Regions from separate parts of the Homo sapiens genome. Here region 2 is reported to be linked to region 1. The links are microRNA targets in miRTarBase. Many come from high-throughput screens and were not tested one by one. Region 1 holds a microRNA gene; the other region holds the end of a gene's coding sequence.
What was found. Region 1 holds the annotated microRNA hsa-miR-561-5p (AUCAAGGAUCUUAAACUUUGCC, at 2,810-2,831, opposite strand). A microRNA usually pairs through its seed, bases 2 to 8, with sites in the 3' UTR of a target mRNA and lowers its output. Matches are read on the target gene's strand: a 7mer-m8 pairs with bases 2 to 8, a 7mer-A1 pairs with bases 2 to 7 and ends in A, and an 8mer does both.

Region 2: the mRNA of SLC37A3 is a reported target of hsa-miR-561-5p. Seed matches in the 3' UTR shown: 7mer-A1 at 1,056-1,062.

What each region holds. Positions count from the first base shown.
Region 1 is chr2:188,296,197-188,300,347 of GRCh38, reverse strand. MIR561 (microRNA 561) reads right to left here and starts at 2,856; the gene lies at 2,760-2,856. All of the region lies in intron 1 of GULP1 (GULP PTB domain containing engulfment adaptor 1), which reads right to left. RefSeq lists enhancers at 1,112-1,406, 537-1,736.
Region 2 is chr7:140,332,120-140,336,119 of GRCh38, reverse strand. It overlaps SLC37A3 (solute carrier family 37 member 3), which reads left to right. Exons shown (of 15, transcript NM_207113.3): 15 at 616-2,368. The coding sequence ends at 708. Among named protein-coding and RNA genes, the nearest start is that of SLC37A3, 64 kb to the left of the region's middle.

The sequences.
Region 1 (4,151 bases):
AATTGTTAATACTGGCACAGTTACTTACTACCAAGTAGATAACTATTTAACACATCTGTTCTTTATATATGAAAAATAAACAAATATAAGACAAGATGCAGAGCCAAATCATAACTCCTCCCAATATAGTTAATGCTGTGATTAAAAATTTTTTTAATTTGCATGTTCTGAAATTAAATATAAATATGAAATCGAGAGCACAACCTACTCCTTGTGATTCCAATTACATGCTGATCAGGTCTGGAGAAATGGAAAAAAAGAAAGAAAAACAAGATGGTTGTTTTGCAAGATAATCCAGCTAAAATTATTCAGCTAAAACTATTAATCCAGCTAAAACTCCTTTATGTAATTACTAATGGTTAGTTCATGAACATGGAAACATAAAGGAGGAACATCTCTATAACTGTAAAATCCACAAGTTGTTCTCCTAAACCACATTCATGGCTTCATGCCTTCTTGCCTATCCCACCTGCTCTGACTGACACTGTCCCTTTTCAATGCCTGCCCAACTCATCCTCATCCTCTGTGACTTGGTCTAAGAATCACCTGCACACATTCTTTCCATACACTGCTTCCCTTCACACTGGTGAATACCCGCTTTCCCCACTCCTCCTTCCTCAACATCCTCTGCACTGTACCTCAGAATTATATAGAAATACCAACTTCTATTTAAGTTAATAAGAGGAGGTCTCTGTCACCTACTAATCACACAACTACAAAAAGAACAAGTGTTATTTGATAAGTATTTATTAAATTCAACTGTATCATATCAGAATCTCTTTATTTGCAGATGCACAGTTTAAACACAGTTATATTTCCCAGAATGAGAAGGGGGGAAAGACTTCAAATGTATATTAAGTGAATGGAAAATCACTGAATAAAGACAAAATCTCATTGAATAAGAAAGTCCCAAAGAAAGATTCATTACATTGTAGGATACAGTAAATTCCTCTTCAAAGAACCAATATGTTAGTATATTGAGCTTCCCTGTTCTTTGTTTTCCATTTGAAAGTTTAACTTCCTCGTTCTTTACATCTCCTTGTCCCTAGCTTTAGTAAACAACCCCCTCCTAGCCTCTATCACCTGCTCTGTCCTTAGTCATCCTTAGTCACCTGCTCCCTCCTTAGTCACCTGCTCTGTCCTTAGTCATCCTTAGTCACCTGCTCCCTCCTTAGTCACCTGCTCTGTCCTTAGTCATCCTTGGTCACCTGCTCTGTAACCGTCCTTCCCACCAAAGCTTCTCACCCCGCCACTCCAGCTCATACCCCTGCTGTCTTTAAAATAGCCAGTTGGAATTATCTTAGACTGTGCGGTCCAACCCTACCCAATAGGGGAAAAACAAGCAGTAGGGACTAGCTGCATTAATAGTAAGATCCCCTTCTCCTCCCTTGTCTGGTGTGCTCTTGCCATTGCTCCATCCGTGAGAGGCACCCTTTTATAGAAGTAAATTGCCTTGCTGAGCAAACTTTTGCCTGAGTGCTATATTCACTTGGCAGCACCGAGCATTTACTTCCAACAACATCAAGTCTAAAATGTTGTTCTCTAAAACCTCATCTGTACTACTCTAGAAAATTTTATTTTTCCAAATTGATCATGAATTTCCTAGTCTGCTTAATGTAATCAGCTAAACCTATGATAACTCAGATTTTACAAATTTAGTAGTTCTTCCTTTAAAATGACTAAAGACATTAGCAATATGAGACCTCTTACTGATTTACTGCTAAGAAGCTTAAAGGTTTTTCTCCTACATATCCAGTCATGGTGATGCATTAAAACAGAAAAAATAATTCATAAAAATTTAAAGCAATAGCCATTGTTACTCTAAAACAATGCTATTTTATAAATCTAAAATACCAATAGACTTTTGCCATTTCATATTGCATTTACGTAATTTCAAATAAAATTTGTTTACTCAAATGTGACTCCTTAAAAATTCTCTCAAACTATATTCTGAGATACTACAATCCATAAACACCCTCTAATTATATTTAATTAACATATTCAGCATAGAGATAAATTGCTTTGAAATTAATTCAGTTATGCAATTGTTCTTTCTAATCAGCCAAACTTTCTCTGTATTTATTTGCACTACTAGTAAAGTTCAGTGTTTATGTTATTGGACATCTTTATGACTATAATAACACACATCATCAAGGAAGTAAAAGGAGAGTTTGATCATCAACCAAAGTCCTTTATTACTACACAGTTCCTCAAAGCAGACAAAAATAAAATAAATTACAGAGCATAACATGTAGTTTGACCTTCAAAGATACTTTACAAAATACTGTTTCTTAAAACTCTCATTAGTACTTATAACCCTATGTTTTAATTCACCTAGGTTGAAATCTGGGTAAATGAACCTATTTGCTATTAAAATTTTACTTAAAACATGGTATCTCTTGATGGTTATAAATGGCTATGAAAAAAATTGAGAAGCTAAAATCACATTTATTCTCTTATTTCAATTTTTTATCCCAAATTTGCACGTTTGCTACCATACTACAAATGTTCTGTTTGATTTTTTTTGGCTAAAATTATATTTAAAATTGATATTATCTAATTTAAATACAAACCAAATGAGAACAATAGTTATCACCTCATGAAATATTATACAGCTATAAACAGGCAAATCATTAATGATTCAGTCAGTAGATTATGTATGCTCTGAAATGATTGTCTTTATTTCTATAAGAGGGTAGACTGAAGACTGAGCCCACAGTATTCAGTCTCCTCTCTTATAGAAATAAGGATAGCCATCCATGGTTCCCCCAGGAACTTCAAGGATCTTAAACTTTGCCTTTGTAGCTCTGGCAAAGTTTAAGATCCTTGATGTTCCTGGAGGACTGGTGGATGAAGTTTCAAGAAATGGATCAACTGTAACACCTAATATTAAGAAAAAGCTGTACCATACCAGGAAAACACTACATTTGTATAAAATTCTCACTTCACAATACCTGATAAACTTATCAGTAGTATCTAACTTCTAAGTAGTGAATTTACCTTCTTACAGTAGTTAACTGTACATGTGCTTGTGTTCTACTTAAGAAGAGTAGAAAGGGCTTCCATGAGTATGCCATCATTAGAGCCTACAACAAAGAATGTAGGTAGAAGATCTTGCCAACTATTTTTCTCTTCTTTCGGAGGTATAAATAGAAGTCTAAAAACACTTTTAGAATTTGGAAAAAAGAAAAAAAAAAGGATTTCTAGGATTTCTAGCAATACTTATCTGGGAAACATTTTTAATTAGTTGTTAAAATTGGGCTCAAAAATATCAATTAACTGAAGCTATTTTTCCCTACAGAAAAACTATAGCACAAATAGAGAAACATCAAAGAATATATATGTATCATAAGTATGCACACACAGAAAGGGAGAAAGAAATGGAGACAGAGAGAGAGACAGACAAAGAGAGAGAGAACGACAGAGACAGAGAGACAGAGAGAAAGTAGTCCCCCAAAATATGGAAGTTTCTAAGGTCTATTCTGAACTTCTTCATCAGGAGGTATATGATACAGCTGATGTATAGGTACATTTATATAATGTTAATAGCAAAAAACAAACATGAAATAAAGGCAGGTATTGATATCTAGATGCACTCTCTTAGTTGCATCCTAGAAAATACATACAAGGCTATTCAAAACTTCCTTTAAAAAGCCATATTAATCTTTGCAATTTAGCACAAAATATACTGAAAATCTTAATTTCTATATAAGTTAACTTACTTATTCATATTATGTGTGCAAATTAGGGCAGCCTTTTCAAAACTATTTTTAAGTATACTACACTGAAAGACAAAACTAATTTCAAATTCGCCATAACTATACCATTTCAATGTAAACAGAAAATTGACACTTACTATCCCACACAATATTTGAGTCAATTAACTGTCCTCTGATGACAATCATGCATGGTAAGCATCATTAGAGTGGCTGAAAACATTTCTTAGGCATAAAACAAACAAAAAACTCGCAAATAACAAGGGCCTGAAAACAGTATAAGCATTGTTTTCTAAGTCTTACTCTGGAACAATGACTTTTAGCCATTCTCTTTAAAAATAAAGGCCTGATTTCAATTTCATATCCCCAGTATTTGAAAGTGAAGCGATTTCTCCATTCAAAGTTATACCATTTTTTCCTCTTCCAATCTGAGTA
Region 2 (4,000 bases), not on the chromosome of region 1:
CAGGTCTACCTGAGAGAGTCTGGAAGGCACCAGGGACGCATTCAGTATCCTGTCCCCAAATCCAGGGCACTGTAATTGAAGGCAGCTTCCACCACCCGTACTCCAGGCAGCTGTCCTCTTGCTGTGGTCAAGGAGCCCCAGGATAGTCCAGCTCCAGGAATACCTTGGAGCTTTCATCTAATTCCCATCTAGCTTCTAAAGACTGGGCCCATGTAACTTGTGTTCCATTTCTGACATCCATGCTAAGTAGAGGGAAGTATCTTGTGATGAACTTTCTGATGTGATCATACTAGGAACTGTAGTAGAAAGAAAACTTTTATCTATTATAAGGATCACTGTTGTTCATCTGAGCCTCTGGTCTCAGTTCTCTGCTCCGCCTATGGCAAATTATTTGTATGTATTGTTCTTTTTTTGGGAACTGAAATGTGATGTTGAGTGTTTTGTAATATTAGCCATAATTTTCAAAATCATTTTCTAATTCATTGAAGATTAAACATTATCTTTGTATGAAGTCAAAATGAATGTAATTGTCCAAATCCATTATTATGTTCAAAACATGACACTCTAACAGAAGTAAACTGTTGCTGCATATTTAATACTATTTTCTCTTTACAGACAAGTTGTACAATTGTGTTTATCTCGCCATTAATAGTGAGGGAAATATTCTCTCTCGTGCTAAGGAGACAGGCTCACATATTGAGGGAGTGACCGGTGCCCGCGAGACAGAAAGAACAATGTCAGCCACATCAGGACCGCTGGGGCTTCGAGTCTGCCCTAATTTGGGTTTGTCTAGGAGCTCCAGCCTGATCTTGGATTGTCAGGCGTCTCTCAACACTGCCAGCCACCTGAGATGCTGACCAGCAGTGAAGGCTGCACTAGTTTTCTACACTACAGGAATTACTGTTGATGATTTTTGCTGTTGTTTCATGAATGTGCCGAGTGACTTCTGACTCTGCCAGCATCTTTGACCTCTGACTCTGCCCGCGTCTTTGTTTGGCCTATTGAGGTTTAGCGTTTTAACCTTAACTGTTGTTTTGGACTTGAACTTTCTCTAGCCTTGAAAATGGAGTGAACAGGAGGCAAAGCCACGCGTGGTTTGTGTTGGTGGTATGTTCCACAAATGGAAGAGATCATTGCATTTTGCTTTGGTAATGAGTTTACAGAGAGTGGGTCATCTTTGAAGCATCAAATCCTGATCAAATGCTCAAGCTGGACCGAGCTGCAAGCCTGCCTTGGACAAAGAATCCCTCTGTTCACTGTGGTGGGAAAGATCACACTACATGCCTGTTGATTGGCTCAGTCACTCTGTGTCTGATCTAAACGTCATTCAGCCCTAGAAGCATGAATTGCTTCAAATTATTGTCAACTTGTTCTCTTCCATTTTCATTCAAATTAACTTTGACTCCTGGAAGTATTGAGTCTTCCTTTCAAGGACCATAAGGTACATCAGTTATCTTGAACATTCTGACGTGTAAAGGACCATAAGGTACATCATTTATCTTGAACATTCCGACGTGTAACTCACAGCCGAAGCACTCCATCCCAGATTTGTTGTCTGGGAACTTAGGATCCTCTAGGAAGCTAATCTGCTTAGTCTATTTTTAGAGGATTGATCTCTGGCACAAGCAGCTTCCTGGAGTTACCTCAGCAGAAGACTAGAATTAGAGAAAAGGGAAAGACCTTTTCTTCTAGTAAGTGTCAAGTACAGATGCTCTTTGACTTATGATGGGGTTATGTCCCAGTAAACCCATTGGAAGTCAAATGCATTTAATACCCCTGACTGGACACCACAGCTTAGCCTCGTCCACCCTAAATGTACTCAGAACACTTAGAATTGCCCACAGTTGGGCAGAATCATCTAACACAAACTCTATTTTATAATCGAGTGTTGAATATATCATGTAATTTATTGAATATTGTACATTATGTTGAAATTGCAACCATTTCACACCATTGTAAAGTCCAAAAATCAGAAGCTGAGGACTGTCTGTACATGACATTGAATCACATGAATGGATTACTAGGGCCTGAGGGGTGTCCGTTCTTTAGAAAAATGTAGAGTATATATATCTTCAGGGCTGTGAATTCCATACTAGTTATCAATATTTTAAGATCATTCTGTATATACATATTTTAAATTATGCAAGCAAACTAGGAGGAGAATGTGCAATTTTGAGGGATACCTAATTTGCATTCGGTTAGGGGATATTTTTCAACCTCTTGCTTTATACTCTGATATGGGGTGTGTTTATGAACTTGTTAATGTTATTTAATCATGCAGATTTCCAATCAGTGTATTGCTCATTTACTGACAAAAAGGGAAAATACGAAACACAGAAAGGGAAAATAAACTGACTTTTATAATGAATCTCCATTTCGTTACTTAAATCTATATACCATGAGCACTGAGATTTAGAATGTGATCGGTGCCCTCATGTTTCCTGATACTGAGCGCTCCCGGGTGAGCCCACGCTGACCCACAGCATTGCTGGGTCACGTGCTCCCTCACCTGAGGTGCTGGGGTGGCTTCATTTCCATCTGTTCTGTGAAAACTTGCCCTTTCCCACTGTGGAAGACTGTGCTCGGTTTGGATGAATTGCCCGGTTGTAAGTTAAGGGCCGTCTGTTTTCTCATTGAACCTCTTGGCTGGCGTTTGGCTCAGAGTTTCCTTTCCGGCTGCACTGTGGGTGTGGTCTCATCTTTGTGTCCCCACGCCAGCCAATGTTTTCTTACCCAGTTGAACCTTAGATCGGTGACTGTTCCCCTGACCTTTCTATGGCCCCCGAGCTGTACTGAAATGAAACCATTTAAAAAAATTTTTTTGAGACAAAAGTCTCGCTCTGTCACCCACACTGGAGTACAGTGGCACGATCATGGCTCACTGCACCCTTGACCTCCTGAAGTCAAAAGCGATCCTCCCGCCTCAGCTCCCAAGGAGCTGGGACTAGCCTCCCAAGTAGATGGACCGTGCGCCACCATGCCTGGCTAATTATTTTTAGTCTTTTTATTTTCTGTAGAGACGAAGTCTCACTGTTACCCAGGCTGGTCTCAAACTCCTGGGCTGAAGCGATCCTCCCACCTTGGCCTCCCCAAGTACTGGGATAACAGGCATGAGCCACTGGGCCTGCGTAAAATGAAATTACAAATCAATGCTCAGCACTGGACAACATGAAATAAGGATATATTCCCTTATTCTAGTTCTGCCAGTCTGCACAGGATTTAACTTTTTTTTTTTTTTTTTTTTTGAGATGGAGTCTCACTCTTGCCCAGGCTGGAGTGCACTGGTGCAATCTTGGCTCACTGCAACCTCCACCTCCCGGGTTCAAGCGATTCTCCTGCCTCAGCCTCCCAAGTAGCTGGGACTACTACGGGCACACGCCACCACGCCCAGCTAATTTTTGTATTTTTAGTAGAGATGGGGCTTCGCCATGTTGACCAGTCTGGTCTGTAACTCCTCAAGTGATCCACCTGCCTTGGTCTCCCAAATTGCTGGGATTACAGATGTGAGCCACCGTGCCCAGCCAGGATTTAACTTTGATGAACATCTAAGAGTTCACTTTATTTTCTTCTTAATATCTTCTCCCTTGAGAAGGGAAGAGAAAACCATAGTGAAAGCTAATTTGAAAATGCATCCTTTCCTCACAGCCAGATCGTCGATGCTCGCTAGGTTGAAATAAAATGCTGCGGTCTGCCTTTTCTTTTCAGAAGGTGGTTTTTTTTTTTCTTACAGTTTCAAAGGAGGAAATGTCTCTCCCTACTCCTGCTTATTCTGTCCTTTCCTGGTTCCCGAGGAACCAGAGTGCCACAGTCAGCATTCCTGCAGCAGTATTGGAGGAGCTGCTGTTCCTCATGATGTTCCGTGGGATGGAGAATGTGCAACGCTCTCAGTCCTTTGTGCCTCTTCCCTTTTCCCTTTTTTTTTTTCTTTTTTTGAGACAGGGTCTTGCTCTGTTGCCCAGGCTGGAGCGCAGTGGCACAATCATAGCTCACTGCAGCCTCA